Linked DNA regions of Homo sapiens: regions 2, 3, 4, 5 and 6 are each reported to be linked to region 1. The links are microRNA targets in miRTarBase. Many come from high-throughput screens and were not tested one by one. Region 1 holds a microRNA gene; each other region holds the end of a gene's coding sequence.
What was found. The annotated mature microRNA hsa-miR-4728-5p reads UGGGAGGGGAGAGGCAGCAAGCA and lies in region 1 at 3,447-3,469, shown strand. An mRNA with a match to its seed (bases 2 to 7 or 8) in the 3' UTR can be bound and repressed. Matches are read on the target gene's strand: a 7mer-m8 pairs with bases 2 to 8, a 7mer-A1 pairs with bases 2 to 7 and ends in A, and an 8mer does both.

Region 2: miRTarBase lists FAM83B as a target of hsa-miR-4728-5p. Seed matches in the 3' UTR shown: 7mer-A1 at 3,737-3,743 and 7mer-A1 at 3,572-3,578.
Region 3: miRTarBase lists OSBPL2 as a target of hsa-miR-4728-5p. Seed matches in the 3' UTR shown: 7mer-A1 at 3,898-3,904 and 7mer-A1 at 3,764-3,770.
Region 4: miRTarBase lists CAPN7 as a target of hsa-miR-4728-5p. The part of its 3' UTR that is shown has no 7-base or 8-base seed match.
Region 5: the mRNA of MICB is a reported target of hsa-miR-4728-5p. Seed matches in the 3' UTR shown: 7mer-A1 at 1,421-1,427.
Region 6: miRTarBase lists CCL22 as a target of hsa-miR-4728-5p. Seed matches in the 3' UTR shown: 7mer-m8 at 853-859, 7mer-m8 at 1,413-1,419, 7mer-A1 at 1,794-1,800, 7mer-A1 at 1,983-1,989, 7mer-A1 at 2,757-2,763 and 7mer-m8 at 3,092-3,098.

The regions. Positions count from the first base shown.
Region 1 is chr17:39,723,050-39,728,445 of GRCh38, forward strand. MIR4728 (microRNA 4728) reads left to right here and starts at 3,446; the gene lies at 3,446-3,512. It overlaps ERBB2 (erb-b2 receptor tyrosine kinase 2), which reads left to right. Exons shown (of 27, transcript NM_004448.4): 17 at 270-408; 18 at 489-611; 19 at 863-961; 20 at 1,677-1,862; 21 at 2,000-2,155; 22 at 2,278-2,353; 23 at 2,658-2,804; 24 at 3,513-3,610; 25 at 3,766-3,954; 26 at 4,246-4,498; 27 at 4,640-5,396. The coding sequence ends at 4,995. RefSeq lists an enhancer at 3,254-4,226.
Region 2 is chr6:54,941,337-54,946,732 of GRCh38, reverse strand. It overlaps FAM83B (family with sequence similarity 83 member B), which reads right to left. Exons shown (of 5, transcript NM_001010872.3): 5 at 1,634-5,396. The coding sequence ends at 4,726. Among named protein-coding and RNA genes, the nearest start is that of FAM83B, 97 kb to the right of the region's middle.
Region 3 is chr20:62,293,600-62,298,975 of GRCh38, reverse strand. OSBPL2 (oxysterol binding protein like 2) reads right to left here. Exons shown (of 14, transcript NM_144498.4): 14 at 2,793-5,191. The coding sequence ends at 5,089. Among named protein-coding and RNA genes, the nearest start is that of ADRM1, 6.7 kb to the left of the region's middle.
Region 4 is chr3:15,250,302-15,255,692 of GRCh38, reverse strand. CAPN7 (calpain 7) reads right to left here. Exons shown (of 21, transcript NM_014296.3): 20 at 4,670-4,762; 21 at 2,777-4,577. The coding sequence ends at 4,433. It overlaps SH3BP5 (SH3 domain binding protein 5), which reads left to right. Exons shown (of 9, transcript NM_004844.5): 9 at 1-1,340. It overlaps SH3BP5-AS1 (SH3BP5 antisense RNA 1), which reads right to left and starts at 1,509. Exons shown (of 3, transcript NR_046084.1): 1 at 1-1,509.
Region 5 is chr6:31,509,213-31,514,456 of GRCh38, forward strand. It overlaps MICB (MHC class I polypeptide-related sequence B), which reads left to right. Exons shown (of 6, transcript NM_005931.5): 6 at 570-1,912. The coding sequence ends at 697. Among named protein-coding and RNA genes, the nearest start is that of MICB, 14 kb to the left of the region's middle.
Region 6 is chr16:57,362,940-57,367,939 of GRCh38, forward strand. CCL22 (C-C motif chemokine ligand 22) reads left to right here. Exons shown (of 3, transcript NM_002990.5): 3 at 565-3,250. The coding sequence ends at 649. Among named protein-coding and RNA genes, the nearest start is that of CCL22, 6.7 kb to the left of the region's middle.

The sequences.
Region 1 (5,396 bases):
GTTGAAGCCCTAAGCCAGAGCCAAGGGCAAGAGTATAGAGAATCTGGAGATGCGGAGAGGGTTCTGATTGCCTACAAGGAGTTTGGACTTTATTGTGGAGGCAGCGGGGAGCCAAGGCAGGTTTTAGAGTAGGAGAGGGTCCAAGCCTGTGGGTCACCCTTCCGACTTCCCTTTCCGAATGCCAAACACCTTCATGTCCCCCGTGGGCCCCCTTTGTCCCTCCCACCCCAAACTAGCCCTCAATCCCTGACCCTGGCTTCCGCCCCCAGCCCTCTGACGTCCATCATCTCTGCGGTGGTTGGCATTCTGCTGGTCGTGGTCTTGGGGGTGGTCTTTGGGATCCTCATCAAGCGACGGCAGCAGAAGATCCGGAAGTACACGATGCGGAGACTGCTGCAGGAAACGGAGGTGAGGCGGGGTGAAGTCCTCCCAGCCCGCGTGGGGTCTGCACCGGCCCCCGGCACTGACCCACCACCCCCTCACCCCAGCTGGTGGAGCCGCTGACACCTAGCGGAGCGATGCCCAACCAGGCGCAGATGCGGATCCTGAAAGAGACGGAGCTGAGGAAGGTGAAGGTGCTTGGATCTGGCGCTTTTGGCACAGTCTACAAGGTCAGGGCCAGGTCCTGGGGTGGGCGGCCCCAGAGGATGGGGGCGGTGCCTGGAGGGGTGTGGTCGGCAGTTCTGATGGGAGGGGCAAGAGCTGGAGGCAGTGTTTGGGGGAGGGCAGTTACAGCGGAGAAGGGAGCGGGGCCAAGCCCTAGGGTGGTGAAGGATGTTTGGAGGACAAGTAATGATCTCCTGGAAGGCAGGTAGGATCCAGCCCACGCTCTTCTCACTCATATCCTCCTCTTTCTGCCCAGGGCATCTGGATCCCTGATGGGGAGAATGTGAAAATTCCAGTGGCCATCAAAGTGTTGAGGGAAAACACATCCCCCAAAGCCAACAAAGAAATCTTAGACGTAAGCCCCTCCACCCTCTCCTGCTAGGAGGACAGGAAGGACCCCATGGCTGCAGGTCTGGGCTCTGGTCTCTCTTCATTGGGGTTTGGGGAGATATGACTCCCGCAAACCTAGACTATTTTTTTGGAGACGGAGTCTTGCTCTGTCACCCAGGCTGGAGTGCAGTGGCGTTATCTCGGCTCACTGCAACCTCCACCTCCTGGACTCAAGCGATTTTCATGCCTCAGGCTCCTGAGTAGCTGGGATTACAAGCGCCCGCTAATTTTTTTTTTTTTTTTGAGACAGAGTCTCGCTCTGTCACCCAGGCTAGAGTGAAATGGTGCGGTCTCAGCTCAGCCTCCCAGGTTAAAGCGATTCTTCTCCCTCAGTCTCCTGAGTAGCTGGGATTACAGGCGCGAGCCACCACGCCCGGCTAATTTTTGTATTTTTAGTAGAGATGGGATTTCACCATGTTGGCCAGGTTGGTGTCAAACTCCTGACCTCATGATCCGCCCGCCTCGGCCTCCCAAAGTGCTGGGATTACAGGTGTGAGCCACCGTGCCCGGCCTAATCTTTGTATTTTTAGTAGAGACAGGGTTTCACCATGTTGTCCAGGCTGGTACTTTGAGCCTTCACAGGCTGTGGGCCATGGCTGTGGTTTGTGATGGTTGGGAGGCTGTGTGGTGTTTGGGGGTGTGTGGTCTCCCATACCCTCTCAGCGTACCCTTGTCCCCAGGAAGCATACGTGATGGCTGGTGTGGGCTCCCCATATGTCTCCCGCCTTCTGGGCATCTGCCTGACATCCACGGTGCAGCTGGTGACACAGCTTATGCCCTATGGCTGCCTCTTAGACCATGTCCGGGAAAACCGCGGACGCCTGGGCTCCCAGGACCTGCTGAACTGGTGTATGCAGATTGCCAAGGTATGCACCTGGGCTCTTTGCAGGTCTCTCCGGAGCAAACCCCTATGTCCACAAGGGGCTAGGATGGGGACTCTTGCTGGGCATGTGGCCAGGCCCAGGCCCTCCCAGAAGGTCTACATGGGTGCTTCCCATTCCAGGGGATGAGCTACCTGGAGGATGTGCGGCTCGTACACAGGGACTTGGCCGCTCGGAACGTGCTGGTCAAGAGTCCCAACCATGTCAAAATTACAGACTTCGGGCTGGCTCGGCTGCTGGACATTGACGAGACAGAGTACCATGCAGATGGGGGCAAGGTTAGGTGAAGGACCAAGGAGCAGAGGAGGCTGGGTGGAGTGGTGTCTAGCCCATGGGAGAACTCTGAGTGGCCACCTCCCCACAACACACAGTTGGAGGACTTCCTCTTCTGCCCTCCCAGGTGCCCATCAAGTGGATGGCGCTGGAGTCCATTCTCCGCCGGCGGTTCACCCACCAGAGTGATGTGTGGAGTTATGGTGTGTGATGGGGGGTGTTGGGAGGGGTGGGTGAGGAGCCATGGCTGGAGGGAGGATGAGAGCTGGGATGGGGAGAATTACGGGGCCACCTCAGCATGTGAAGGGAGGGAAGGGGCTGCCTGTGCCCCACCTTGCAGGGTCTGTGCACTTCCCAGGATTAGGGAAAGACCGGGTAGGGTCTGTCTCCTGGCATCACATCTCCCCCTGCTACCTGCCATGATGCTAGACTCCTGAGCAGAACCTCTGGCTCAGTACACTAAAGCTCCCTCTGGCCCTCCCACTCCTGACCCTGTCTCTGCCTTAGGTGTGACTGTGTGGGAGCTGATGACTTTTGGGGCCAAACCTTACGATGGGATCCCAGCCCGGGAGATCCCTGACCTGCTGGAAAAGGGGGAGCGGCTGCCCCAGCCCCCCATCTGCACCATTGATGTCTACATGATCATGGTCAAATGTGCGTGGCTGAGCTGTGCTGGCTGCCTGGAGGAGGGTGGGAGGTCCTGGGTGGAGGAGCCCACAAGGGGCATGAAAGGGGACCAGGATGTATGTAGACCCAGGAGCCCTAGTATGTTAGGAGCCTCAAAACCTTCTTGTATCCCTTTTACAGTCAAAGTCCAAAGCCACTCTTGAGGAACACTCTTGTACAAAATTAAGCTGGGCACAGTGGCTCATGCCTGTAATCCCAGTACTTTTGGAGGCTGAGGTGGGAGGATCCCTTGAAGCCAGGAGTTCAAGACCAGCCTGGGCAACATAGTGAGATCCTATCTCTACAAAAAATAAAAAAATTATCTGGGTGTGGTGGTGTGTGCCAGTAGTCCCAGCTACTCAGGAGAGGCTGAGGCAGGAAGATCACTTGAGCCTAGTTTAAGGTTGCAGTAAGCTATGATTGCACCACTGAAATCCAGCCTGGGTGACAGAGCGAAACCTCATCTCAAAAAAATAAAAAAGCAAACAAAAAGAAAAAAAAAATTAAAAGGGAAACTAGAAGAGATGCCAAAGGTTCTGGCTGAAGACCCCAGAGTCTGGTGCTACTTCTCTACCACCTGAGGGCTTTGGGCTGTCCCTTGGGACTGTCTAGACCAGACTGGAGGGGGAGTGGGAGGGGAGAGGCAGCAAGCACACAGGGCCTGGGACTAGCATGCTGACCTCCCTCCTGCCCCAGGTTGGATGATTGACTCTGAATGTCGGCCAAGATTCCGGGAGTTGGTGTCTGAATTCTCCCGCATGGCCAGGGACCCCCAGCGCTTTGTGGTCATCCAGGTACTGGGCCTCTGTGCCCCATCCCTGCCTGTGGCTAAGAGCACCCTCCTGCAGAGGGTGGGAAGGAGAGATGAGTCCAGTATGCCAGGCCCCTCACGGAAGGCTGCATGCTGGGCTGGGGAGGGGCCACCATCCTGCCTCTCCTTCCTCCACAGAATGAGGACTTGGGCCCAGCCAGTCCCTTGGACAGCACCTTCTACCGCTCACTGCTGGAGGACGATGACATGGGGGACCTGGTGGATGCTGAGGAGTATCTGGTACCCCAGCAGGGCTTCTTCTGTCCAGACCCTGCCCCGGGCGCTGGGGGCATGGTCCACCACAGGCACCGCAGCTCATCTACCAGGGTCAGTGCCCTCGGTCACACTGTGTGGCTGTCTGCTTACCTCCCCCAACCCCGGTGGACTAGGGTCCCTTTCTCTGATGTTCCCTCAACTGTCACCTCTCAAGGAAACCCCATTATCCCTACAAAAAATTCTTACTGCCTTCCAACCCCTGTGACCCCATTCTCTCCACGGTGACTGTGTCATACCCCAAAGGTGACCTCTGTTTTTCTCCTGTGACCCTGTCACCTTCCATGGAGTCCCCATCCCAGATCCGTGAGTGACCCCCATCATGACTTTCTTTCTTGTCCCCAGAGTGGCGGTGGGGACCTGACACTAGGGCTGGAGCCCTCTGAAGAGGAGGCCCCCAGGTCTCCACTGGCACCCTCCGAAGGGGCTGGCTCCGATGTATTTGATGGTGACCTGGGAATGGGGGCAGCCAAGGGGCTGCAAAGCCTCCCCACACATGACCCCAGCCCTCTACAGCGGTACAGTGAGGACCCCACAGTACCCCTGCCCTCTGAGACTGATGGCTACGTTGCCCCCCTGACCTGCAGCCCCCAGCCTGGTATGGAGTCCAGTCTAAGCAGAGAGACTGATGGGCAGGGGAGGTGGGACCTTCAGCCCAGGGTCCACTGTGGGGGCAGAGGGAGTGGCAGAGACACCGGGGTTCCTTCCCCTAATGGGTCACCTTCTCTTGACCTTTCAGAATATGTGAACCAGCCAGATGTTCGGCCCCAGCCCCCTTCGCCCCGAGAGGGCCCTCTGCCTGCTGCCCGACCTGCTGGTGCCACTCTGGAAAGGCCCAAGACTCTCTCCCCAGGGAAGAATGGGGTCGTCAAAGACGTTTTTGCCTTTGGGGGTGCCGTGGAGAACCCCGAGTACTTGACACCCCAGGGAGGAGCTGCCCCTCAGCCCCACCCTCCTCCTGCCTTCAGCCCAGCCTTCGACAACCTCTATTACTGGGACCAGGACCCACCAGAGCGGGGGGCTCCACCCAGCACCTTCAAAGGGACACCTACGGCAGAGAACCCAGAGTACCTGGGTCTGGACGTGCCAGTGTGAACCAGAAGGCCAAGTCCGCAGAAGCCCTGATGTGTCCTCAGGGAGCAGGGAAGGCCTGACTTCTGCTGGCATCAAGAGGTGGGAGGGCCCTCCGACCACTTCCAGGGGAACCTGCCATGCCAGGAACCTGTCCTAAGGAACCTTCCTTCCTGCTTGAGTTCCCAGATGGCTGGAAGGGGTCCAGCCTCGTTGGAAGAGGAACAGCACTGGGGAGTCTTTGTGGATTCTGAGGCCCTGCCCAATGAGACTCTAGGGTCCAGTGGATGCCACAGCCCAGCTTGGCCCTTTCCTTCCAGATCCTGGGTACTGAAAGCCTTAGGGAAGCTGGCCTGAGAGGGGAAGCGGCCCTAAGGGAGTGTCTAAGAACAAAAGCGACCCATTCAGAGACTGTCCCTGAAACC
Region 2 (5,396 bases), not on the chromosome of region 1:
TCTACATCTTCTAATACAAATGCCTATTCAGGTAGTTATAAAATACCCATTTTAATGTATGGATATTAATGGACTATTATCTTCTCCAAACTGCAGCTAAGGAAATGACTGGATTCCCACATCAAGTATTTATCAGGTATCTTTTATGTGCACCCTTTTTAGGCACTAGGAGTACATTTAAGTAACAAGTTAGGACAAATAGCCCTCAAGTAACATAGACTTTTGCCGTAAGTTTGGGGTATTCTTAAAACATGTATGAAAACTTGCTGGCAGCCTCTGATTATCCAGACAACCCTTTTTTTTTTATTTTAATTTTTTCCATCAAAAGCCTACTATAACCTACACACTTGGAACAAAGTAGGTCCCCAGTATGAGTGTTAAATAAATGAGCCAGATTGTTGAAACATTAATATTATAGGAGGAATGTCCAAACTTAACTTATTACCCCTTTGTTAACTCAGAAATATTCTTCTGTGTATCTCTTGCTTTTCTCACTGCTTGAAGCTCGGGTAATTCTCGTTATGTCAAGTGTTTCCCTGGACAGGATACACACATATCCCCTACAATGCCCTTCCGTCTTTCCCAGGTCCAATTACTCAAGATGGTCTTTGACTCCTTAAACCAACTGAACCTATTTATAACTTTCCTTTCAGATGGCCACAAAAGTGAAGTCTTATCCATTTCCCTTACTATTCTAACTGAAGTAGGATTTTCTTAAACATTGGCATTTATGATTAATTTGTTCTACCATTCATTATAATTAATTAGTTAAAAAGCACATTTGCCTTTAAAAGGACACAACTTTTAATCTGCAATACACACTATTTCAACTACCTCATAAGCTGTGATAAAAAGGATATTTTTTTCTAATAAATTCTGAGTTTTAATTCACTAACTCTCAGACTGTAGGTTACTTAATGTCATTAATACAAATGCACATATAGAATATTTTACTCAAACCAAATGCTATGAAGTTATAAAGAAGTCAACCATCATTTTTTTTTCCTTTTTAAAGATTCTCCATCTTTTAAAGTAAAAATTAGGCCAGGACATTGGCTCATGCCTGTAATGCCAGCACTTTGGGAGCTCAAGTTGGGGCAGATTACTTGAGGTCAGGAGGTTGAGAACAGCCTGGCCAACATGGTGAAACCTCATCTCCACTAAAAATACACAAATTAGGTGGCAGGTGCCTGTAAACCTAGCTACTTGGGAGGCTGAGGCAGGAGAATCGCTTGAACCCAGGAGGCTGAGGTGGCAGTGAGCTGCGATCGTGTCACTGCACTCCAGCCTGGGTGACAGGGCAAGACTTCATCTTGAAAAAAAAAAAAAAAGTAAAAAATTATTTAAAGTAACCACTATGTTACAGTATAATAGAAATAAAGAGAATGTGTATATATAATATTTTGCTTAAAGGAAGAGAATCGCCACTGAATTTCAAATATGAATAAATTACTATATAAAATATAATTGGTAATCAAAACAATGTTTTACATGTGATTTCCAAGTTCATGGAAAAAACATTTAAAAATATGTACACATCTAAATTCCTGATTAGAATAACTAAGTGAAAGACTGAGCTTGAATGCAGAAATGCAGAGTATGAAGATTTAAAAAAACAATAGCTTACAATATATTGATGTTTGTACAAAATTATTTATTATTCATTTATTGATCTAAAAACAAAAGTTCATTTGGAAGAATATTTCTTTATAATATCGTACATACATAAAATGTTGAGCTACTCAGGAACCTGAGGCTGGAGGATCGTTTGAGCCCAGGACTTGGAGTCCAGACTGGGCATACTAGTGAAAACCCATCTCTTAAAAAAGAAAAGTTAACAAGTTGACTCTTTGGTTTATCATTTTATCCTTTTGTTTTAAATATTCTAGAACCCAGGATCTACCTGAATATCATGATAAAGTTATTTTAAAAAAAACAGCAACGTACATGTCACATATATAGTCAATGTAAAGCAATTCTACTTTGCATCCCTTAGCCACAGGCATAAGGCAGAACACAGATATTTCTGTGTTCTGTGAATATCTGTGGAATGATACTTGAATATGTGGATCTTGAGTAAAGCTGAATTCATCCAGAATTAAACTTTTTGCATTATTTAGGTGACACTAGACATCATCTTGATTAAACAAGATATTTGCTTCCACAAGTGTAGACTGACAACATATACCCATACCTGAACACACCATGTCAGAATTATGGCTAATCCCAAACTTGTAATAGAGGGATATCTGTGTATTCGGGATACAGGGTCACTTGCAGTATTCTCTAGCCATCTGCCAAGAACTACTTTGAAATTATACCCATTTTTCTTGTGTTTCTGCTTAAAAACTAATGTACAGTACCATGTAGACAGTAAAAGCTGCATTACCAAACTTTAATATCAATGTACATCAAAGTGATATTATCCGCCCCCCAATATTAATATGGGGAAAAAAAGACAGAAAGTATATGGCTTAAAACTATTTCATCCACAAACTGTGATGGTGTCTGTTTAAAACTTAAACAGTAGCTGTACATTTTTTGAAGTATTATATTCTTGCTCAGTCTTATCCCTGGAGAGGTTTTGGCCACAGAGACTTTGGAAAGTTGTTATGTACATATTCTCAAATATAGATATTTTTGAAGAAAAAAGATACAAGAAAAACAATTTTTAAAAAACGCAGAGAAAAATAAATCTGCTGTGCAAAGCCTAAGTCACCTGTCAGGGGATGATGAAATAAAGCATTCTGTATTCCTCAATTCCACTGAAGAGGAAGAGCTCACAAACTATTTAAAAGGATGTTTCTATAAGCTATCTACATGTCCTGAAATTAAGGAGATTTCTGTACAAAAAGGCAACAGGCTTTTGGTTGTAATTAAACATGATTAAACTTCTACTCTTTATATAATTTCAGTTTTAAAGTTACATTGCACTAAATTTCAGGGCTTTCCATTTCAGAACTGCCTAATGGCTCATTATCCTAATTCCCTATCCAATACTAACAAAGAATGGGTAATAACAAAGTCAGTCTAGTTTGGTTAACTGTGGGTTCTGGGCTTTGTTAGGTTTTCTTTTCCTGTCATATTTTCTCCTGCTATGTTTTCTTTTTCATGGTTTCTAAACACTATGGAAAATTATTTTAATGATATAGATATTTTATACCATTATTTAAATTATTTTAATGAGACAATATTAAAATTTGTCTGAATCTTGCATTTTTAAAACAACAGTATACTGCTCCACACAGCAACTTAGAATATATTAAGTAATATATTTAAAGTGATGTACAAACACTTCACACTTCTCACAGGATGCACTGCTTCTTGAACTCTGTTCTTTGTGAATGAAGCAAAGTCAAGTTAAAGTCTCTGGAACAGATATGGAGCTTATACTTCATTACTGTAAGAAAGACAAAGGGTATCTTATAATCTGAATATCATCCTCAAATCATGGAAGAACTAGCCCAGTAAAACTTCTCATTTTCCCAATGGTATTCTTACAAAAACACTATGCAGTCATATCATATTTGGCACAACTTAAAGAAGAGCAAGACCTGTAATCCCAGCACTCTGGGAGGCCGAGGCGGGAGGATCACGAGGTCAGGAGTTTGAGACTAGACTGGCCAACATGGTGAAATCCCATCTCTTCTGAAAATACAAAAATTAGCCGGGTGTGGTGGTGCGCACCTGTAATCCCAGCTACTCAGGAGGCTGAGGCAGGAGAATCGTTTGAACTTGGGAGGCAGAGGTTGCAGTGAGCCAAGATTGCGCCACTGCACTCTAGCCTGGGTGACAGAGCGAGACTCCATCTCAAAAGAAAAAAAAAAAGAGCAAGAATTTTCGCAAGCAAGACCCCTTAGCATTGTCATGCCAATCTAACAAAAATTTAGGCAGAAATTTACATTTCTAAAAGCTTTTATACAATAGAAAAAGGAGGGGGAATCATTCAGATTTTCTAAATTCCTACTGGTTTGTCCTAAATGTGAAGTAAGGAATGACTATAAAAAATCAGCAGCCTATGGGTAAGAGGGGGACAGCTCCCTGGGTCCAGTGTAGAAAGAAGCACATCCCAGACCGTTTTCAAAGGCTGAGGAAAATAAATTCCTACGAATGTCATTATACTACATGAGGCTGATACTTTGCAAACACTTCAGGCAGAAAAAAAAATAAAAAATAAAAAATGTAAAAGGTACTGCTGTTGCCCAAACAGCTGTACAATGATCCACAGAAAAAATAATATTAATAAAATATAACAAGTTATCCCGTAGAACTTCAAGTTAATCTTAAAAAAGGGCTTTGTCCCATTTGCTTATATTTTTGAAGATATGAAAACACTATAAACACATGTTATAAAGGGTTACTGAGGGTAGTATGACCTTTTTAAAAGGAAATGGTTAAAATCCATACACCATACACCATACACCATACATCGTCCACAAAAATTTCTAAGTGAGACTTAAAATCTTCAGTCTAAAGAAAATGATTTAAATACATCTATTATTTTTACCATTACCACTTACAAATAATGTGTTTACAGAGAAATTCTATCTACAGCAGACCCTAACTTTATCACACAGAAAAATAACTTTATACTAGGACACTGGTGAACATATACATCATACCCATAATTCTGTCCTTAGGAAAATCTATTGGCATGTTACAAAGACTGTCCACAATTTTCTTTGGACAAATATTGATAGCCTCATTCATTTTGCATTTTAATAGCTATTTATTTTTGTGTATAAAGTTTCCAAACTTTTGCATAAATCCTCGAAACTTGTTCTCATTGGGTTGATATGAGCGATAAACACCAGTGTTGTAATTAAGCAATGGACTAGACCTGCCATAACTGTTGCCCATAGTCGCAGATTTTATTTCTGGGCGATTTATACTGGTATTTGGCATGTTGCTTGTTGGCTGAATAGAGCTCTCAATCTTACAAAACGGCTCAAAACGACTGTAAACACGCCGATCAGTTGAATGAGATCGTAGAAGCTCACTGGACGTTGGCCTTGGAGAAGAAGTAGGTCTTCTTTCAGGGGTAACAACTGCATTAATCTCCCTTGAATCTCGGTATTGGATCTGTTCAGTGTTAAATCTTGGGGCAGAGGCATCTCCTGCCCTTTCCAAGAACTTGCTTTCAACTGGACCTGGAGAAGGTGTTCTTTTATTTTCATCTGGTGGAGCATTTATCTCTTGAGATGGGCTAACTGTTACATCTTCCTTACTCTTGTGGATGCTGCCTTGAGAATTCGATGAGGAAGAATGCTTTCTTCTAGGAGATGAATCAACTTTTGTGTCTGATTTCTTTGGTTTTTGATTTTCTTCACCCTCAGAAACTAATGTGTCAGAGCTACTACACAATCTATAAAAGGCAGGTGCTTTATTTTTGGATA
Region 3 (5,376 bases), not on the chromosome of region 1:
CGGGCTCAGGCAATGGTGGTGGAGCCCCACAGCCAAACCCCTGGAGCATTCCGAGAGCATGGACGTCTTGTGGACCGTGTGTCCCTCTGCCCCAGCCACACTGACCACTGGGACGACTGAGTCTGCTCAGCTTACGCTCCTGAAAAGCACGAAGGTGCTGGGGCAACTTACGGCAGAAGGCAGGCAGCTGAAACCTGGGGCACCGGGCCCTTCGCTGCTTCTAGCAGTAGCGTCCCCCCGCCAGGGGAGGGGGGTCCATCAGAGCCTCCTGCTGCTTGGAGAACCTGGGTGCTCCACCCATCACATGTGCCGCCCGACAGGTGTCACGAGTGTCCCCCAGCCCCCTCTCCACAGGGCAGTTTTTGGAAATGAGCCATTTGCTTGGCCAATCCTCAGGAACACGCGGTCCAAACTTCTGATAACCAGGCATGAGGACTCATCCTTAGCAGATTTGTAGCCCTTTTCAAAATGGCCAGAGCGGCTGAGATGGTGAAAAATTGCTCAGTGTAAAACAAAGGTCACCTGCTGCCCATCTTCAGAGAATCTTCATTCAAATCTTAGAGGTTAACATTTATTTTCACAGATGTGTACACAGCCCTCTGAAAAATCTGAGGATGACTGTGTTAATGCAGTTTGGCACTGACAGTTGTTAAATATTATAAAATAAGTGCGTTCTGCTGGCATCTTTTCTCAGCTGCCATGTCCTTGCTGCCTGCTGGGATGAATGGCACTGGAGGAGGAGCTGGGTGAAGGCACGGGGAGGGGTGAGGGCCTGCAAGGTGTGGGCGACAGGAAAGCCCGGCTGCACACCATCGCCCTCTGCAGAGCCACCGTCGTGCTCCTAAACATCTGGCCACGGCAGCCTGGCTCCCAAAGCTCACCAAGCGAAGGACCGACTGTGAAGTGAACTTCGTACCCAGAGCTGGCAAATGTGGCTTTCGCCTCACAGAAATTTTACATCAGCCTGTAGAAGACGGTGAGGAACCATCTTTTGAGGGGTCCGAGGGAGACCCAGCTCCCGTGCTGCCTGGCAAGCAGCAGGAGCCACCGCCACGTTCTCGGCCACGGCAGGGGCCCCGTCTTTTGTGTCCACTTTACACACAGGCAAGTCCAGATGTGGCCATCAAAGAAAACTGGGACCATCAGGACTTCCTGCAGATGGATCGAACTCTCCTCTGGGGTCCAGCTGCGCCCCTCGTCCACATCTGTGCTGGCTGGAGGGTCAGGGCTCCACTCTGCCCGACAAGCAGTCTGGTGCAGGGGACGCAAATGTCACACCCAGCAGGGCCCGGCACTTGGAGACCTGAACTCTGTCGCCCAGCTCAGTGGGAAGCTCACCAGAACTCGTAACTGTCTTTGCTTTGTTTTCCTTCACGGAAATGACAAGGACCTGTAAAACTTGTAAATCCCCATTTCTGCTGGGGAGAAATTTTCCCCAAAGAGCAGGATGCCTTGTGAGGAGGCCTCCAGGCGTTTCTCTTGTCCTGTTCTAACCTCCTGACCTTGTGTTCAGATGTGCCTGGCAAACCGGGGCAGGTCCTTGGTGTTCAAGGCCAATGCCCCAGATGGACAGCTCCATGCTCAGACACGTGGACAGTGGGGTGCCCGGAGGCCACCAGGGTGGCATGTGGCACTTCTCCAAGTGCCGGGCCCTGCTGGGTCTGACATTTGCGTCCCCTGCACCAGACTGCTTGTCGGGCAGAGTGGAGCCCTGACCCTCCAGCCAGCACAGATGTGAGCTCTGGGGATGGCGTCTGGAAGGGGTGGTGGTGACCGGGAGCACCTGCAGGCACCACTCTTCCTGTACCGGCTTTCCCACTTGCCGCCGGAGGCTGGGAAACTCACGGTACACACAGGCACCTCCCCACGACCAAGGCATCTGGGCCGCTGGCTCGCTCTCCTCCCAGACAGCAGTCTCGGGAGGGTCTGGCTTCAGGACAGCCTGCACCAGCAAAATGCCGGATGTCCATCAGGGCTGGGGACCAGGGCCAGCTGTCCCCCACTTCCCACAACCCAAGCCTCGCCCGGTGAGAAGGCTGCAGGTGTTGGTGACACCCGACCCTTCACCGTCCTTGGACACTAGGGCAGGGCAGACGTCGCCACGTGGCCAGCGACTCAGATCCACACCGTCATCCCAGGTGAGCCTGGTGAGCAGCAGCATGTGCTATGTTGCCAACACGTGCTTTGCATGTGGCTCTCCGTGCTTTGCATATGGCTCTCCGGGAGGCATGCCTGTTCACCGTTCTGTCTCCAGCAGCTCACAATACATACACCCTGAACCAATGACCATAGAACCGAATTCTCATTTCAATTAGCAATAGAATCCAACCAAGGTATTAGGTTCTGTTGGGGAATAAGCTTGCTAGGTTTTTCATTCTGTAAGGACATCCTACATGACAGGATTAATTTTTTAAAAGAACCAAGGGCCTGGCACAGTGGCTCACACCTGTAATCCCAGCACTTTGGGAGGCTGAGGCAGGAGGATTGCTTGAGCCCAGGAGTTCAAGACCAGCTTGGGCAACACAGTGAGATCCTGTCTCTACAAAATTGTTTTAAAAAAATAGCTGGGTTTGGTGGCATGTGCCTATGGTCCTAGCTACTTGGGAGGCTGAGGCTGGAGGACTGCTTGAGCCCAGGATGTCGAGGCTGCAGTGAGCTATGACTGCACCACTGCACTCGAGCCTGGGCAACTGACCCTATCTCTAAAAGTGAATAAAGCACCAAGACCCTTGGTCAAGGCCATACTCACACCCAAACGCGTGGCCCACGAGAAGGCCATCACTTTCCACACATTAAGTGGTGGCCATCTTTATTAGAGATGTTTAACATTCAATAGATATCCAAGGTGACAAAAGTTAGGTCATGGTTTATGTGTTAGCATTTGCAGAAACAGTAACAAAAAGTAGTAAAAAGTTAAAATAACCTCGACACACAGCCGCTTTTGCCATCAGCCTTCCTACCGTTCTTCCTCCACCTCTGGTTTGGTGTCTGTCCTCAAGGACAGCAGAAGAGGGGCTGTCTGTGCAGCCAACCAGCCCCTGAAATACCAGGAGCCTGGTCCTAGAAGAGGACTTGGAAACAAACCCGTGGGCAAATTATCTTAACCAGTAACAAGTGGAATGATCAGTAAGAACTCGTTAAACCTCCCTAAATGCAGTCACTTTCAATGTGTCTGAGTCTCACCTCTGGATGTTCTCAGCTTGCAACCTTTCTTGGAGAAGGAGCCGGTTCACAACCACAGTCTGGAAAAGCAGATGACCCTCCACCAGAGGCACCTGGGCTCCACATTCCAGCCATCGGGGAATTTCAAAGTCTCCTCTTTGAATAACGCCACAATCCTGAATCCTCAGACCCAGCTACCAGTCACGGAGCGGTTCTGTTCAGACACTTTTGAGTGGCTGGTACGGAGCTCATAGGCCCCGAGGATGACACAGGACTCGGCACCAAACACCATCGCTTCCAGCTTCCAAAGCTACAAAATCAAGCTTTCAAAACGAGTGTTCACTTCCAGAAGTGCTTCCGTCACAGGTGTGATGTGGACGCCAAGACACACGCAGGTGGCACCTGTCACTCAGAAGTGCCGGCCTGAGTAACCTGGACTCCATGCAACCGCGTGTCAGCGTGTGCATGAGTGTGTGCGTGCGTGCACACAACCGACGGTCTTTCAAAGTGCTCCACTGTGATCTCTCGTGTTGACAATTCTACATGAAAAAAAATCAGTCACGGCCAGGCGCAGTGGCTCACGCCTGTAATCCCAGCACTTTGGGAGGTTGAGGCAGGCAGACTACTTGAGGTCGGGAGTTTGAGACCAGCCTGACCAACATGGTGAAAACCCGTGTCTACTAAAAATACAAAATCAGCCAGGTGTGGTGGCGCGTGCCTGTAATCCCAGCTACTTGGGAGGCTGAGGCAGGAGAATCGCTTGAACCCGGGAGGCGGAGGTTGCGGTGAGCCGAGATCATGCCATTGCACTCCAGCCTGGGCAACAAGAGTGAAACTCCGTCTCAAAAAAAAAAAAAAAAGGAAAGAAAAGAAAAAAAAATCAGTCACTTGATAAAGGTGAATGCTGAGATGGACACATACCTATTTTTGGTTAAATAACTTTAATTACACCACTGTAAGTAGATTCTGCCTCTGACCCTCCCACAGGACACAACCGGATGTGATTCTTGTCACTTCTATTTTAAACATGCATACTGGGAAAAACAGAAACACAAGAGTGCTATGGGTACACGCGACGTGTGAGAAGAAAGGAACCCCCTGGAGACACGGACGCGGTGTGCGGTGACAGCCAGGCCTCACTGACAACAGGGCAGCGAATCGCAGCCGGGACGCCTCTGAGGCGGAAGCAGTCTTGGGATTTCCTGTCACGCTCTCGATGCTTCTGCCCACTCTGGTTTGTCACGGGGATGCTTCATTTTGGACAGTATAAAACCGGTGATTAATGCATATCTTGCTCTTCAGCAAAATACTATTCAAGTAGTTTTAACTTAAATATTTTAAAAGTAATCTTTACATTATTGAAGATTGTTAAAAAATACAGAATCTGACAACTTTTCACTCAATCTGATGCTCTGAAACTCTTCACTTCTGTTTTATCATAATTTAGAAGGCAATCCCTGGCCTCTATAAAACTCTCTGCAGGATTAGCTTCAAGATCCATCTTTCCCCCACTGGTTCGAGTTTAAAAGGCTTTCAGAACCTTTTGCCACTGCATTATAAAGAGAACATGAACCCCTTCCCATTACTTCCTTTAGCTACACATGCTATGACTGAGAGTGTGCTGGAAGCTAAACAAGCCCCAGCTGATTTCTGCCACATAAAAGGGCGCCGTGAAGAATTTCCCTGTTGAAACCTTAATGAAGACGATGATCCCAAGTGAAGCTTTATGAAGAGACGGCACAGCAGAGTGAAATGTTTGGCAATCAACAGTTAATTAGAATTACATCCTTGATCAGGGATGATGCTATCTCCGCGAACTCAGTCGTTAGAAAAGTTGGTTTCTGCTGTGACGAGGCTCACAGTGGCCACTCGAGGAAGTCCAGCCTCGTCAGCCTCCGGTCCCGGGCCCCAGGCCCCTCCAGGCCCTCAGTAGATATCTGGGCAGTCGGAGAAATTCCGCTCAAAGTAATCCCCTGCATACAACCAGTCGGGGGTCCCAGTGTAGGGGTTATTGCCTGGGTAGAACCACCTGCCGGATACAAGGGAGGGGGGTCAGAAGATGCTCAGCCCAAAAGGAAAACGCAGCCCTGTTCTGGGTGCAGGAGTGTGTTCCCCCAACTCAGCACCATCACGGTAACGTGGGTTTTAAAATGCAGCCCAGCGTAACAACTTCAACGGAGAATTATTGATCACGTGGTCATGTGAATGCTGGAA
Region 4 (5,391 bases), not on the chromosome of region 1:
TCTCCACTTTATCCCACGATATCTAAATGAAAAAGAAAGAAAACCCACACACAAAGCAAAAACTCAAGTATTAAGAGCACATATTTTTGACCCAGTGGAGGCTTAAAAAAAAAAAAATCCAAGAACACAATTCATTTTCACCACCTCTGGTGTTCAGAGGGGGCTTTTAAAAAAGCGTGTATGCTGGGATACCCATTAAAACCATTTTCTAGAAGGCTACCATGAGCTGCACTTTTTGGGGTGGGAAAGGTGAATGCCAGTGGGGATGCGGGGGGATGAGGGTAGGAGGGACTTATAGAAGGGGATTTGTGGCTGTGGGGGAGAAGGTTCTACAGCATAAGCCTTATCCTGCCAGCCAAGGGGATTTATTCTAAGAGAAGTGCATGTGAAGAATGGTTGCCACTGTTATTAGATTGACAAGATGTTAATTTCTCTGTAGGTTGTAACTTTAAAAATAAATGAAATTATTTAAGGGTTATGCTGCACTAGTATTCCTTAGAGGAAACAGTTCTTTAAAGTTAGGAAAGGGAGTAGGCAGGCATGTGTTGGCAAAGGCTGTTAATAGTAGTTAAGTGTTAAGACTGCTTTTCTTTAACGTTTTCATGGTAATGCATATTTAGAGCACTGTATTTTTGTCTTGTTAAGAAAATTTAGCATTTCTAAAAGAAAAAAGCAACCCTCTTTCAAACTGTTAATTCTGTCACAGCCTGTATATTTTAGTCATTTGTAAATCTCTTCATACAATAGTGACTTCTTTTTTGACTGATACAGTATCTTAATTACAAGGTTATTTTGTACTTGTCTTAATACACTAAGTGTAATAAAAACGGCTTGAGAAAAGTTTCTCCTTTCTGTGACTTCAAATAAGAACTCCCAGTATTGCCTAAATCTTCTAGGCAACCCTTTTTCCATAAGGAAGAGCATGGAGTGCTGTGGTCACCAGTAATCATTTTCAATTAATTAAGGTCATGAACAGTAATAATTTAAGCCTTGTTTACCAAGGTTTGAATTCTACTTTTGCTGTTGCTAAAGCTGTGGGCAATGAGGAGACACAGTGGCAGATAAAGACGAGGTGGTGACGCTGGAGGAGTGGGCCTCGGCTGCACACTGCAGTCTCGAAGCTTAAGTGTTGCTGTCAGTCAGTTCTCATCCCCAGAGAATTATTTAATTAATTAACTGGGGGGGGTACACTGGGGCATTAGACTTTTAAAAGCTCCCCGAGGGAATTCAAATGTGCATTCAGAGTTGAGAATCAGATGGATTCTTTCTTTTGTGGAAATGTTTTATAATATTGGACTCTTAATCCGCATTTCATTATTAAAGCATGCTGTGGAGAAAAAGTTCTTGGTTGGCCAATCATGAGGTTTAAGTTTCAGAAATAACCCTTTGCAGTATCAAACAAGTGTTTTACCTAGTAGTTAATAAATATTTCATCTAGGAAAGTTCATAGAAGTCCCTTGTGCTATTTAAGAACATTAAACAGCCGGCTGGGCCCAAGGGCTCATGCCTGTAATCCCAGCACTTTGGGAGGCCAAGGCTGGTGGATCACTTGAGCCCAGGAGTTCGAGACCAGCCTGGGCAACATAGTGAAACCCAGTCTTTACCAAAAATACAAAAATTGGCCAGTCTTGTAATTTGGGTCTCAAGCAAGAACACTTAACAGCATACCTGAATTTGACTAGTGACCTTCAGGGTTCATTCAGTTCTCATAAAATCTCCTTACACCCTTTTACCTGTAGTAAAGACACTGAGACTTGCTTGACTTACCATTAGCAAAAACTTCCCTGCAATTGAGGCAATTCTTTTTCCTCCTAGAAGAAACACCATCTGGAAAATAGCCCAAGCTAGGATAAAGTTTTTACAGCAGAGTCAAGTTATACAGTCTAATAACTAGAAATTTCTAGGTACTTCTCGCAGAGAATGAAAGTGGGAAGGAGTTTTCTAACACTGGGGCTTTCTTTCCCTTGTCTTTACAAAAGACAAAGCCTAGGCAGTCAGTCAGTAGCACTAGAGTATTCCTTATGGGCATTAAGAATTTCTCTTGTTTCCTGCCTCAATCCCCCTTTCCCATCAGCCTACCACTTGCTTGTCTCCTACACCAGAAAAGGATGCAGACCACCTTTTGACCAGGGCTCCCTTCTCACACTATCACCTAGTCAAATTTCTAGTTTTACGTAGTCTGCCCCTACTGCTGTCACTGTGGCCTCTTTATCTCCACCACATCTGACATTTAATTATACTCTTCTGGGAATTCTGTTCACTGGGCTTCTTAATCCTCCCCCAACCCTCGTTTTCTTGTATCTCCTGTTAGTCTATGTATTTTTTTCTAAATTAGAAATACTTTCTAAAAAACTTCCCCCAAATCAGTTCTTAACCATCTTTAGTTCACGTGACTCTTGACTTTTTGGGTGATCTCACTTACTATACCACGTTGATTCCAGATCTGGATTTTCTGGGCAATTTAATGTGTCAAAACTTACCTTTCACTGAAGCTATGAGCATCTGTCCATGTGCTGAATTAGAAACTTGAGTCATCCTCTCTAACAATTCAACTGGTCTGTCTGTTATTTAGAACCTCCAAAAGGCCTGGATTGTTTTTCCTCCCTCTACAATGGGTCTAGATCTTGTCCCTCCCTCGACTAGACGGCCGTGACTGTGGGTGCCATTAGACACACACAGCAGCTCAATCAGGGCTCAGGGAAGAAGGCTTGTGAACCCTGGGCAAAATCTTTTAATCTCTTAGGCTTATTTCCTCAATTGTAAGAAGTACAAATAATAGTATCTATACTTTATTCAGCTATTGGGAAGATTAAAAAGAAAAATATACACATTGGGTACATAGTAAACACTCAATGGTCAGTAACCTGTCTTTTGAAGCTTTACCTTCAAGGTCCAAGTTAAAGTATCAATTCTTCAAATACAATTTTTTATATTGGTCCAGCCAAAATTAATCTTTCCCTTATTCATACACTGGTGGCATGTTTTTAGAGCTCTATTATAGAAATCAGTGCCTTTAAGTTGTTCATATATAGGTCTCTTCTAATAAATTTGATGGCAGGGATTAGGTTTTTAGTTTGCATCCTGTACAAGATCTTTACCACAACAGGTTCAAATCATGTGTTCATAATATAGTTCTTATGTTCTGGATTTTTTCTTTTTAAAAAGTAACAGAAAACTTGTTAAATTTGTCCACCTAAAATTAATAGGCTAAAACTGAAAGCATGAAGTATTTACCAAAGTGAAATCTCATTAGTGTAATAATCTACCACTACTCTGTTAAAGAACAGATTTTTGTTGAAGTATATATTTTCATGCAAATAATCTGTTCTCATTTACATGAAACACGACAGATGAAATCTTTCAATAAATCTAACTTAAACTATGCAATATCCGTAAGTATAAACATTTTATTTCAATTTAAGGTAGTAGCAATACAAAATAAGTTTTGATAATTATAAAGTAGAGACAATGAAAAATCCCACCCTATTTTTAGAATTTTAAAATATTGAGCATCATTCTGTCCTGATGGGTTTTTATGTAAAGTGGGAATTTACATGACACCAGTATCTTGGCAATTCACTTTTTTTGAATGCTACATATCCCAATCACCATATATTAAATTCTCTATTTTCTTCAAAGTGCTATTGCCACAAGAGACTGAACGATACAGCAATTTAAAAAAAGACCACACAAACTAAATTGTAATGTCTTCAATATCTCAATTACTGTTTTTTAAAAATAAAAACTGCAGTAGTGAATTTCTTTAAGTTCTTGCTACATGATTGAATGGGAGATAACCTCAACAATTTTCATTCTTAGGCATGAGCATCTTCATGCTAAGGTAGTCTATACTTAAAAGCTTTATTCTTTCATAACACCTGGGCAACAAATATTTTAAAATCATAAATAATGCAAAATTAAAATCAGTTATGGTGGCACAATTCATTTGGTAACTAGTTGCCCAAGATGTATAGTAGAATCAAGCAGGTTTAACTTCCACATGCTCTGCAAAAAAGGGAAACAATGGAAATATTTCGGTATATTAATCTAGCCCACTATTCCACTCAAGGAATCTATATCCTTTCTTTTTCTCATCTGGTCTCAGTTCCTTTATCCTCTTAGCAAAGGCATCTCACAGTGATGACTGAGTCTAATTTTAATCATATGCACTTTTTATACAAAATGGCCCCTAAAATGCAAGCCAACTCTATATACACAAAACCATGTAAACGGTACCTCTAGGTGATTTAGGTAATTCTGACTATATACAGTTCTTACCAAACACCCTGACAAGCACCAGATTCCACTGTAACACGTTTTTAGAGATTTAATTCCATTCTGATTGTTCTGCTTACTGTCCTGAAGATTTGCGTCCTTATTTGAAGAACTGATGTTTGGTAAGTATAAAAGCCAGTAACTTGAGATTTCTCCATCACTGAAGTTGTGTGATCTTGATGGGGATAATACTATTAAAGTCCAAGAAAAAAGGTCCTTCTTGTTTAGGCAAAAAGGTACTAGGAATGATATTGAAGATCCCAGAAGGTATATTTTCTAATTCCAGGTAGCAAAACCCACACCTATATTTAGAGAAAATGAGAATAAGGTTTATAGAAGATGATGCCACAAAAAGTAAAGTATAAAATAGATACAATAAAAATGCCAACATTACCTATAGTCACCACTAGATTTCCTCAGAAAGCCATGGGGACCAGGATCTCCTAGAGTAGAAACTGTTACAACCTCAAATCCAACGCTATATTGCCTAGCATTTAAAATGAACAGAATTACTGTATTAATATATATTCTCAAACGTGATTTAAAATAACTTTATCTGAAGTGCAGATGTCATACTAAGTTTATGTTTCTGAAGTTTCAGTAGAAACATACACACTCTATTTTTGATCATAACACACCATTTATATTTTTCAGTTGAAGCCTTAAAGATTAACACCAGATTAAACTTACTTTAAGAGAGACTGTATTTTTACCATGGGCTCCCCGGGAAATATTTTATTTTTTTTGAGACAGAGTCTCACTCTGCTGCCCAGGTTAGAGTGCAGAGGCACGATCTTGGCTCACTGCAACCTCCGCCTCCTGGGTTCAAGTGATTATCCTGCCTCAGCCTTCTGAATAGTTGGGACTACAGGGGTATGCCACTGTGCCTGGCTAAATTTTTTTGTATTTTTAGTAGTGACGGGGTTTCATCATGTTGGAGAGGCTGGTCTCGAACTCTTGACCTCAGGTGATCTGCCAGCCTCGGCCTTCCAAAGTGCTGGGATTACAGGTGTGAGCCACTGCGCCCGACCTCTTTTTTATTTTTGAGACAGGGTCTCACTGTCACCCAGGCTGGAGTACAGTGGAGCAATCATGGCTCACTGCAGCCTTGCCCTC
Region 5 (5,244 bases), not on the chromosome of region 1:
GGTCAGGTCAGGTGCAGATCCTGTGGCAGCCACGTCTTTCCATGCTGGGCCTGCTGGGCCCCCCAGGCTTCCTGATGGGGTCCCCAGTTAGGAGCTGCCTGCTCAGGGCTGGGAGGGGAGGAGTGCTGAGCTGCAGATAGAGGGCAGGGCCCACAGTGGGCAGGGCCTGCCCTGGTGTGCAGGTGCCTCTGCAGGAGAGAAGGGCCTGGGGACTGAGAGCAAGGGTCAGGGCCTCTCTTTGGGGAGGCCTCTCACTGTAACAGGACTGGTCAGGCCTGAGAGGAGGGCACTGGGTTCCCTCTTGGGTCTTGTCCTTTTGTCTTGGGGCCCTTTCACTCCCTGCACGGTGAGTGGTGGGCACAGGACAGGGGCTGATGTTGATGGAGTGATGGGAGAGAACTGACAGGGGCTGGGAAAAGCAAGGAGGGAGGAAGAAAAAAGTGGGGGCCTCATCTTCTCTCAGAGAAAGGGCGAATCTGATTTTGGGGCAACTGAAGAGAGAAAAGTCCTTAGGGAATAAACACAACACTGCACCCAGTGGAGCATTTACCCGTTTCCCTCTTCTCCAGAGCTTGTGAGCCTGCAGGTCCTGGATCAACACCCAGTTGGGACAGGAGACCACAGGGATGCAGCACAGCTGGGATTTCAGCCTCTGATGTCAGCTACTGGGTCCACTGGTTCCACTGAGGGCACCTAGACTCTACAGCCAGGCGGCCAGGATTCAACTCCCTGCCTGGATCTCACCAGCACTTTCCCTCTGTTTCCTGACCTATGAAACAGAGAAAATAACATCACTTATTTATTGTTGTTGGATGCTGCAAAGTGTTAGTAGGTATGAGGTGTTTGCTGCTCTGCCACGTAGAGAGCCAGCAAAGGGATCATGACCAACTCAACATTCCATTGGAGGCTATATGATCAAACAGCAAATTGTTTATCATGAATGCAGGATGTGGGCAAACTCACGACTGCTCCTGCCAACAGAAGGTTTGCTGAGGGCATTCACTCCATGGTGCTCATTGGAGTTATCTACTGGGTCATCTAGAGCCTATTGTTTGAGGAATGCAGTCTTACAAGCCTACTCTGGACCCAGCAGCTGACTCCTTCTTCCACCCCTCTTCTTGCTATCTCCTATACCAATAAATACGAAGGGCTGTGGAAGATCAGAGCCCTTGTTCACGAGAAGCAAGAAGCCCCCTGACCCCTTGTTCCAAATATACTCTTTTGTCTTTCTCTTTATTCCCACGTTCGCCCTTTGTTCAGTCCAATACAGGGTTGTGGGGCCCTTAACAGTGCCATATTAATTGGTATCATTATTTCTGTTGTTTTTGTTTTTGTTTTTGTTTTTGTTTTTGAGACAGAGTCTCACTCTGTCACCCAGGCTGCAGTTCACTGGTGTGATCTCAGCTCACTGCAACCTCTGCCTCCCAGGTTCAAGCACTTCTCGTACCTCAGACTCCCGAATAGCTGGGATTACAGACAGGCACCACCACACCCAGCTAATTTTTGTATTTTTTGTAGAGACGGGGTTTCGCCAAGTTGACCAGCCCAGTTTCAAACTCCTGACCTCAGGTGATCTGCCTGCCTTGGCATCCCAAAGTGCTGGGATTACAAGAATGAGCCACCGTGCCTGGCCTATTTTATTATATTGTAATATATTTTATTATATTAGCCACCATGCCTGTCCTATTTTCTTATGTTTTAATATATTTTAATATATTACATGTGCAGTAATTAGATTATCATGGGTGAACTTTATGAGTGAGTATCTTGGTGATGACTCCTCCTGACCAGCCCAGGACCAGCTTTCTTGTCACCTTGAGGTCCCCTCGCCCCGTCACACCGTTATGCATTACTCTGTGTCTACTATTATGTGTGCATAATTTATACCGTAAATGTTTACTCTTTAAATAGACATTTCTGGTCTGTGTTTTATTTCATGCGTCTGGGAGCGGATAAAGTGTGAGGTTCAGGGAGAAGGAGAGGTCTGTCTCAATGCCTTGACCCAGCATCAAAGCAATCTCCCCTCCTTGTTCCCTTTCCCTGCTAGTTCCCAATGACTGACAGATTCACAGCAGAACAGAAAGGACTGGGAAGGGATGGAGGTGGGACATCTGGCGCCAATATTCAGGGGCTGACCCTGTGAGGGAACATCTGCCCTGAAGAGTTGGAGCCTTCATGTGATGACACAGAGATCTCTGTCACTGTATTCAGGGAAAGGATCAAGCCTCACTCCCCATGCAGGGAGGAGGTTCTGGCTGTGATCCGGCCTGTGGGAGAAGTGAGGACCCGCTCCCTCTACAGTGACAGCCAAGAACCTGCAGGTGACAGAGAAGGCTTCCCCTCAACTGTCTCCTATCAGGTTCTTCCAGGCATCAAGGAATAGACCTGGGACATTGCCTCCAGTGACATGAACACACCCAGAAGTGAGGTGGCCCTGCCAGGGGGTCCTGGTGCTGCCACTTGTTTTGGGAGCTCAGTGTCTGGAGAGGGGTGTGGAGAGTAGGCTTTCTGCAAAACAGTAATCATGACCTATAAATTATTTTATTCTTCATTAGCTTTTTGCCATAAAATAAAACAGGTACCCAAAAAGAAAAACTGTCTGAAAATGTTGCCCTTTAATAATAATAATAAATAATAATAATAAAAGATAAACACTCTTTAACCACCAGAGATATAGAAGTTTGTCAGCCAGCCCAGAAACCATCATTTGCCCCAGCTCAGTGATAAAGGCTTCCCTTCCCCACATAAAATCACAGCCTGACCTTTATGATGATTGCTTCTTTGTTCTATTTTATATTTTCATCCTCTGAAATTGTAGTTTAGTTTTACCTTGGGATGTATAATTTTTGTTCTCTTTTTTCTTTTTTTTTTTAAGACGGAGTCTCACTCTGTCACCCAGGCTGGAGTGCAGTGGCATGATCTCGGCTCACTGCAAGCTCCGCCTCACGGGTTCATGCGATTCTCCTGCCTCAGCCTCCCGAGTAGCTGGGACTACAGGCGTCTGCCACCACGCCCGGCTAATTTTTTTGTATTTTTAGTAGAGACAGGGTTTCACCATGTTAGCCAGGATGGTCTCAATCTCCTGACCTCATGATCTGCCTGCCTCGGCCTCCCAAAGTGCTGGGATTACAGGCGTGAGCCACCGCACCTGGCCTGTTCTCTTTTTTTCTCTATGCTCCTCCTTGAAATTTTATTGTCTGGCTGAGTTTTCCATAGTTTGCATTTTGCTGGCTCCACCCCAAGGCATAGTTTAATATGGACCTGTTTTATCTGTACTTTCTACAAATTGGTAGTTGGCTACAGAGATTTGCTTATAGACTGACTTGATTTTCTTCTTGAATACTTCATTTATGGCACTCCATTGTATTCTTCCATCAGGAGGAAGAACTTAGTACTGGTTATTTACTTCTACTCTACTTTTAATTGCCATTGCTTTTCAATGGCTAAATCTGTTAATTCGTTATGGGTTGCAAAAGAATTATAGTCTCAGTCTCTCATTCCTTCCCCATTCACTAGCTGAATAATTTCTAAAATAAGAGATTTACCCTTGGCTGGATGCGGTGACTTACGCCTGTAATCCCAGCACTTGGGGAGGCCGAGGCTGGTGGATCACCTGAGGTCGGGAGTTCAAGACCATCCTGACCAACATGAAGAAACTGTGTCTCTACTAAAAACACAGAACTAGCCGGGAGTGGTGGCGCATGCCTGTAATCCCAGCTACTCGGGAGGCGGAAGTAGGAGAATTGCTTGAACCGGGAAGGCGGAGGTTGCAGTGAGCCGAGATGGCGCCATTGCACTCCAGCCTGGGCATCAAGAGTGAAACTCCGTCTCAAAATAAATAAATAAATAAAGTGGAGCACTTGACGGCCATGGGAGAGAATCGGCTATGACCACACACAGCAAGATGATGAGCCCAGCAAAGATGATGAGCCCAACTACATGAAAACAACTTCTAATTTCATTCAATCAGAACCAACAGAACTCATCTACAGTGTTAAAAATCAAGACAGTGGCTACTCTAGGGTGGGGGAGGCTGGTTTATGACTCAACGGTGTTTCTTGGAGGGTGAAAATGATGTTGCTTGATGAAGGTGTTGTTTATCCGAGTTTTTACTTGGGCAAAATCCACTGCCCACCTGTGATTTGTCCACCTTTCTCCATGCATGTTGTCCTTCATTCAAGTTTACATTTCTGGTGTTTTGAAACAATTCTCTCTAAGCTAATATAGAATTTCTCCTACTCCAAGTCCTTAGAAATGCTGCATTGAAAATACCAGTGAATTTTTTTTTAATTCCAGGAAATAAATGCCCATGACTCAGATATAAAAAGGAGAATCTACAAGAGCAGTAGGCTTGGGAGCTGACACCAGAACAGCTTTGGAAAGGGCTGTCGAGCCAGGAACTAGGAATCAAAACCCAAACAAGACCACAGGAGGTAGAGGGTAGAAATTATGCCCCAGTAGTGCATGAATGAATGAATCAAGGGCAGTGACTCATGGGTTGCCTGGCCAGTCTGGAACTTGGGGAAAATAAAGTTGGAAAATTGGCGGATGGAAGAGAGAAGTGTGCACTGACCACTTTCCATGGGAAGAGCATGTGAAGATAGAGGTTGCATATGGATGCCTGCCAGAGGGTCTCCAAGGGGCTGGGGCTCCCTGTAACCAGGTGAGCGAGATGGCTTGATGGATGATGCCACTCAGCCGCACAAGGCTTGCTCATGAGTCCCTGCACAAAGTGGCCGTGGTGGCTGGGATGGACACTGCATGGACAGAGCAATTGAGTCACCACTCACCAAGGCTGACCTGGCAGCTGCCACTGCTGAGGACCCAGCCTGCCAAAAGCAGCTGTTTCTTTGAACAGAGAAAAAAAACAGACAATGTTAATTAAGAGCAAGACAGTGTTATGACAGATAAATATGCCACTGCAGCTATAGTAGAGATGTAAACAATCTTGAAATTATAAAAAAAAAATGTCGATGGAAAAGACTTACTGCAAGTAAGAAGTTAAAACAGTTGTAAAAATTCTATCTCTGCCCAACTATATACAGATTGTTTCACAGGGAAGTCCTACTAAACCTTCAAAGAAGGTTATTGGACTTATTTAAAATATTCAAGAGAATGGAGCAAAATACAGAAAGCTAGGCAACTCACTTTATCAGCTATGAATAGTGTTAATTCTAAAGCCAGTTAGGGAACAAATAATAAAGAAACAAGATAGGAAAATCACTATTAGTAATTAGATGTAAA
Region 6 (5,000 bases), not on the chromosome of region 1:
ACTCAAGGCTGGGATTCAAGAGCTGAGGGTCCTGGAAGTCCTTGCTGCCTCTTCCTCTTTTTTTTTTTCTTGACACGGGGTCTCATTCTGTTGCCTAGGCTGGAGTACAGTGGAGCAGAGATCTGGGCTCACTGCAGCCTTGACCTCCTGAGTCCAAGCAATCCTCCCACCTCAGCCTCCCAAGTAGCTGAGATCACAGGCAGATGTCACCATGCCTGGCTGACTTGTACGTTTTTGTAGAGACAGGGTTTTGCCATGTTGCCCAGGATGGCCTTAAACCCCTAGGCTCAAACAATCCTCCTGCCTCGGCCTCCCAAAGTGCTGGGATTACAGGCGTGAACTCCTGGCCTCCTCTTCCTCCTGAGAAATATTCTTTTCACACCACAGGTGGCTTGTAAATTTTGAACCACTCTATTTAGCAGATAATGTCATATGTAGTAGGTGACTCATAAATGCTGAGCCCTGCATAAAGTAGGTGGCTCATAAATGCTAAGCTCCCGAGGGTGTGGCATCCTTGCTGCGTGCTAATGTTGCTGCATTGTCTCTGGGGTCTCCTTCTTCCAGGTTGCTAACCTTCAGGGATAAGGAGATCTGTGCCGATCCCAGAGTGCCCTGGGTGAAGATGATTCTCAATAAGCTGAGCCAATGAAGAGCCTACTCTGATGACCGTGGCCTTGGCTCCTCCAGGAAGGCTCAGGAGCCCTACCTCCCTGCCATTATAGCTGCTCCCCGCCAGAAGCCTGTGCCAACTCTCTGCATTCCCTGATCTCCATCCCTGTGGCTGTCACCCTTGGTCACCTCCGTGCTGTCACTGCCATCTCCCCCCTGACCCCTCTAACCCATCCTCTGCCTCCCTCCCTGCAGTCAGAGGGTCCTGTTCCCATCAGCGATTCCCCTGCTTAAACCCTTCCATGACTCCCCACTGCCCTAAGCTGAGGTCAGTCTCCCAAGCCTGGCATGTGGCCCTCTGGATCTGGGTTCCATCTCTGTCTCCAGCCTGCCCACTTCCCTTCATGAATGTTGGGTTCTAGCTCCCTGTTCTCCAAACCCATACTACACATCCCACTTCTGGGTCTTTGCCTGGGATGTTGCTGACACCCAGAAAGTCCCACCACCTGCACATGTGTAGCCCCACCAGCCCTCCAAGGCATTGCTCGCCCAAGCAGCTGGTAATTCCATTTCATGTATTAGATGTCCCCTGGCCCTCTGTCCCCTCTTAATAACCCTAGTCACAGTCTCCGCAGATTCTTGGGATTTGGGGGTTTTCTCCCCCACCTCTCCACTAGTTGGACCAAGGTTTCTAGCTAAGTTACTCTAGTCTCCAAGCCTCTAGCATAGAGCACTGCAGACAGGCCCTGGCTCAGAATCAGAGCCCAGAAAGTGGCTGCAGACAAAATCAATAAAACTAATGTCCCTCCCCTCTCCCTGCCAAAAGGCAGTTACATATCAATACAGAGACTCAAGGTCACTAGAAATGGGCCAGCTGGGTCAATGTGAAGCCCCAAATTTGCCCAGATTCACCTTTCTTCCCCCACTCCCTTTTTTTTTTTTTTTTTGAGATGGAGTTTCGCTCTTGTCACCCACGCTGGAGTGCAATGGTGTGGTCTTGGCTTATTGAAGCCTCTGCCTCCTGGGTTCAAGTGATTCTCTTGCCTCAGCCTCCTGAGTAGCTGGGATTACAGGTTCCTGCTACCACGCCCAGCTAATTTTTGTATTTTTAGTAGAGACGAGGCTTCACCATGTTGGCCAGGCTGGTCTCGAACTCCTGTCCTCAGGTAATCCGCCCACCTCAGCCTCCCAAAGTGCTGGGATTACAGGCGTGAGCCACAGTGCCTGGCCTCTTCCCTCTCCCCACCCCCCCCCCAACTTTTTTTTTTTTTTATGGCAGGGTCTCACTCTGTCGCCCAGGCTGGAGTGCAGTGGCGTGATCTCGGCTCACTACAACCTCGACCTCCTGGGTTCAAGCGATTCTCCCACCCCAGCCTCCCAAGTAGCTGGGATTACAGGTGTGTGCCACTACGGCTGGCTAATTTTTGTATTTTTAGTAGAGACAGGTTTCACCATATTGGCCAGGCTGGTCTTGAACTCCTGACCTCAAGTGATCCACCTTCCTTGTGCTCCCAAAGTGCTGAGATTACAGGCGTGAGCTATCACACCCAGCCTCCCCCTTTTTTTCCTAATAGGAGACTCCTGTACCTTTCTTCGTTTTACCTATGTGTCGTGTCTGCTTACATTTCCTTCTCCCCTCAGGCTTTTTTTGGGTGGTCCTCCAACCTCCAATACCCAGGCCTGGCCTCTTCAGAGTACCCCCCATTCCACTTTCCCTGCCTCCTTCCTTAAATAGCTGACAATCAAATTCATGCTATGGTGTGAAAGACTACCTTTGACTTGGTATTATAAGCTGGAGTTATATATGTATTTGAAAACAGAGTAAATACTTAAGAGGCCAAATAGATGAATGGAAGAATTTTAGGAACTGTGAGAGGGGGACAAGGTGGAGCTTTCCTGGCCCTGGGAGGAAGCTGGCTGTGGTAGCGTAGCGCTCTCTCTCTCTGTCTGTGGCAGGAGGCAAAGAGTAGGGTGTAATTGAGTGAAGGAATCCTGGGTAGAGACCATTCTCAGGTGGTTGGGCCAGGCTAAAGACTGGGATTTGGGTCTATCTATGCCTTTCTGGCTGATTTTTGTAGAGACGGGGTTTTGCCATGTTACCCAGGCTGGTCTCAAACTCCTGGGCTCAAGCGATCCTCCTGGCTCAGCCTCCCAAAGTGCTGGGATTACAGGCGTGAGTCACTGCGCCTGGCTTCCTCTTCCTCTTGAGAAATATTCTTTTCATACAGCAAGTATGGGACAGCAGTGTCCCAGGTAAAGGACATAAATGTTACAAGTGTCTGGTCCTTTCTGAGGGAGGCTGGTGCCGCTCTGCAGGGTATTTGAACCTGTGGAATTGGAGGAGGCCATTTCACTCCCTGAACCCAGCCTGACAAATCACAGTGAGAATGTTCACCTTATAGGCTTGCTGTGGGGCTCAGGTTGAAAGTGTGGGGAGTGACACTGCCTAGGCATCCAGCTCAGTGTCATCCAGGGCCTGTGTCCCTCCCGAACCCAGGGTCAACCTGCCTACCACAGGCACTAGAAGGACGAATCTGCCTACTGCCCATGAACGGGGCCCTCAAGCGTCCTGGGATCTCCTTCTCCCTCCTGTCCTGTCCTTGCCCCTCAGGACTGCTGGAAAATAAATCCTTTAAAATAGTGTCTGCTTTGGTTTCCTGGCATTTGCTGTCCCTGTGAGATGGGGCAGGGGGCACCATGATCCCCTCTATCCCACTGGGGAAGCCTTCCCATTGAAATAGGTGGTGACTTGCCCAAGGTCACCCTGTGAGTGGTGGGAGTCAGGGCTGGACACAAGGGCCTGGGAGGTGGCTGCACAGGTGCTGATGGAGAAGCCCAGACATTTGTCCCAGAGTTCCCAGCCCACCTTGGGACCAGCTGTCAGGAGGATTTGATGAAACCATTAAAGCAGTCCCCACATCTCGAGCTTTCAGCAGCATAATCACTCAGCCACTCAGCCTTCACCTTCCCCCTGCACGGGCAGACACTGGAGAAAGGGAGGGAGTATTAGTCAGGAAAGGCTACCTCCTGCAACAAACACCTCCAAATCTCAGTGGCTCAACTCAGCAGAAGCTATTTCTTCTCACACGAAGTCTAATCAAGCATTCTCAGTCTTAGGCAACCTTCCATGTGGTCATTTCAGGGACCGAGACCCCTTCCTTCTGGTACAGCCAGCGTGGTCACAGGCAGAGGAAATGCTAAGCACACGTGGGCAATCCTCCTTACTGGCCAGAAAAGATAAGCTGGGAGAGCTGGGTGGGACTGGGTCCCAGGGGCCCTGGAGGTGGCGGCAGGGGAGGCCCCCTGGTCATGCCCATCCCTTCTCCCATCCTGGTCCTGCAGGAGTGCCCCGATCTCCCCATCCTCCTCTCCAGAGCTGTTTCTGTGCTACTTCCAGGGCTGGGGAGTCCCTCATATCCCTCAAGAACAGCACAGGCTCCCTGCTCTCTGGGGCACAGGGTCCTGGCCACCTGAGGGCTTGTGGAAGGTGGGGACAAGGACACCCCCATTCTCACCACCCCCACCCCACCCCAGAGGAAATTTTTGCCGTCCAGTGCTACCCATTTTTTTTTCTCATCATTACTCTAGTTATCCCTCAGTCCAAGACCTTCCCAGCTCTCTCTGGCCTGTGAACAGCATCCTCATTCTTCACTCCCGCTTCACAATTCTCTGCAGTTGGGCCTAGCCGCAGCCTCCATTGGAGCCAATGGCATCCAGCCATTCCTCACCCCTGAATACGTACTGTGCCTTCCACCTTGGTGAGGCTTTCACCTCTGCCTGGAATGGTCTGTCAAAATCCTGCCTAGGTGCATGTGGCAGGGTGCCAGCCCAGCATGCCACAGCTGACTTGCAAATCACAAGGGGACTAATTCTTCTATAATAAAGATGTCTAGCAATCACCCATCGATCCATCAATCCCATCCATCCAAGGAAAATTGGAGCAACTGGTCCATGTGAAGTGTACAGTATTACTCATAATAGATTCTTGCCAAGAGTATGTAGCCTGGGTCTAATCAAGCCTTTAGATCTAACTTTCGGTTTACAGGAAATAAATAGGATAGAGGAACAAATTAGATGACATCACAAGGAAATAACTAAATAACTAAATTAAGAATGAGAACACCGTATAAGACAATGGACTTGACTTTGCTCTTTTTTTTTTTTTTGAGGCAGAGTCTCACTCTGCCGCCCAGGCTGGATTGCAGTGGCGCGATCTCAGCTCACTGCAACCTCCACCTCCAGGGTTCAAGCAATTCCCTAGCCTCAGCCTCCCAAGTAGCTGGGATTATAGGTGCATGCCACCATGCCCACCTAATTTTTGTATTTTTAGTAGCGACGGGGTTTCACCATGTTGGCCAGGCTGGTCTCAAACTCCTGACCTCAAGTAATCT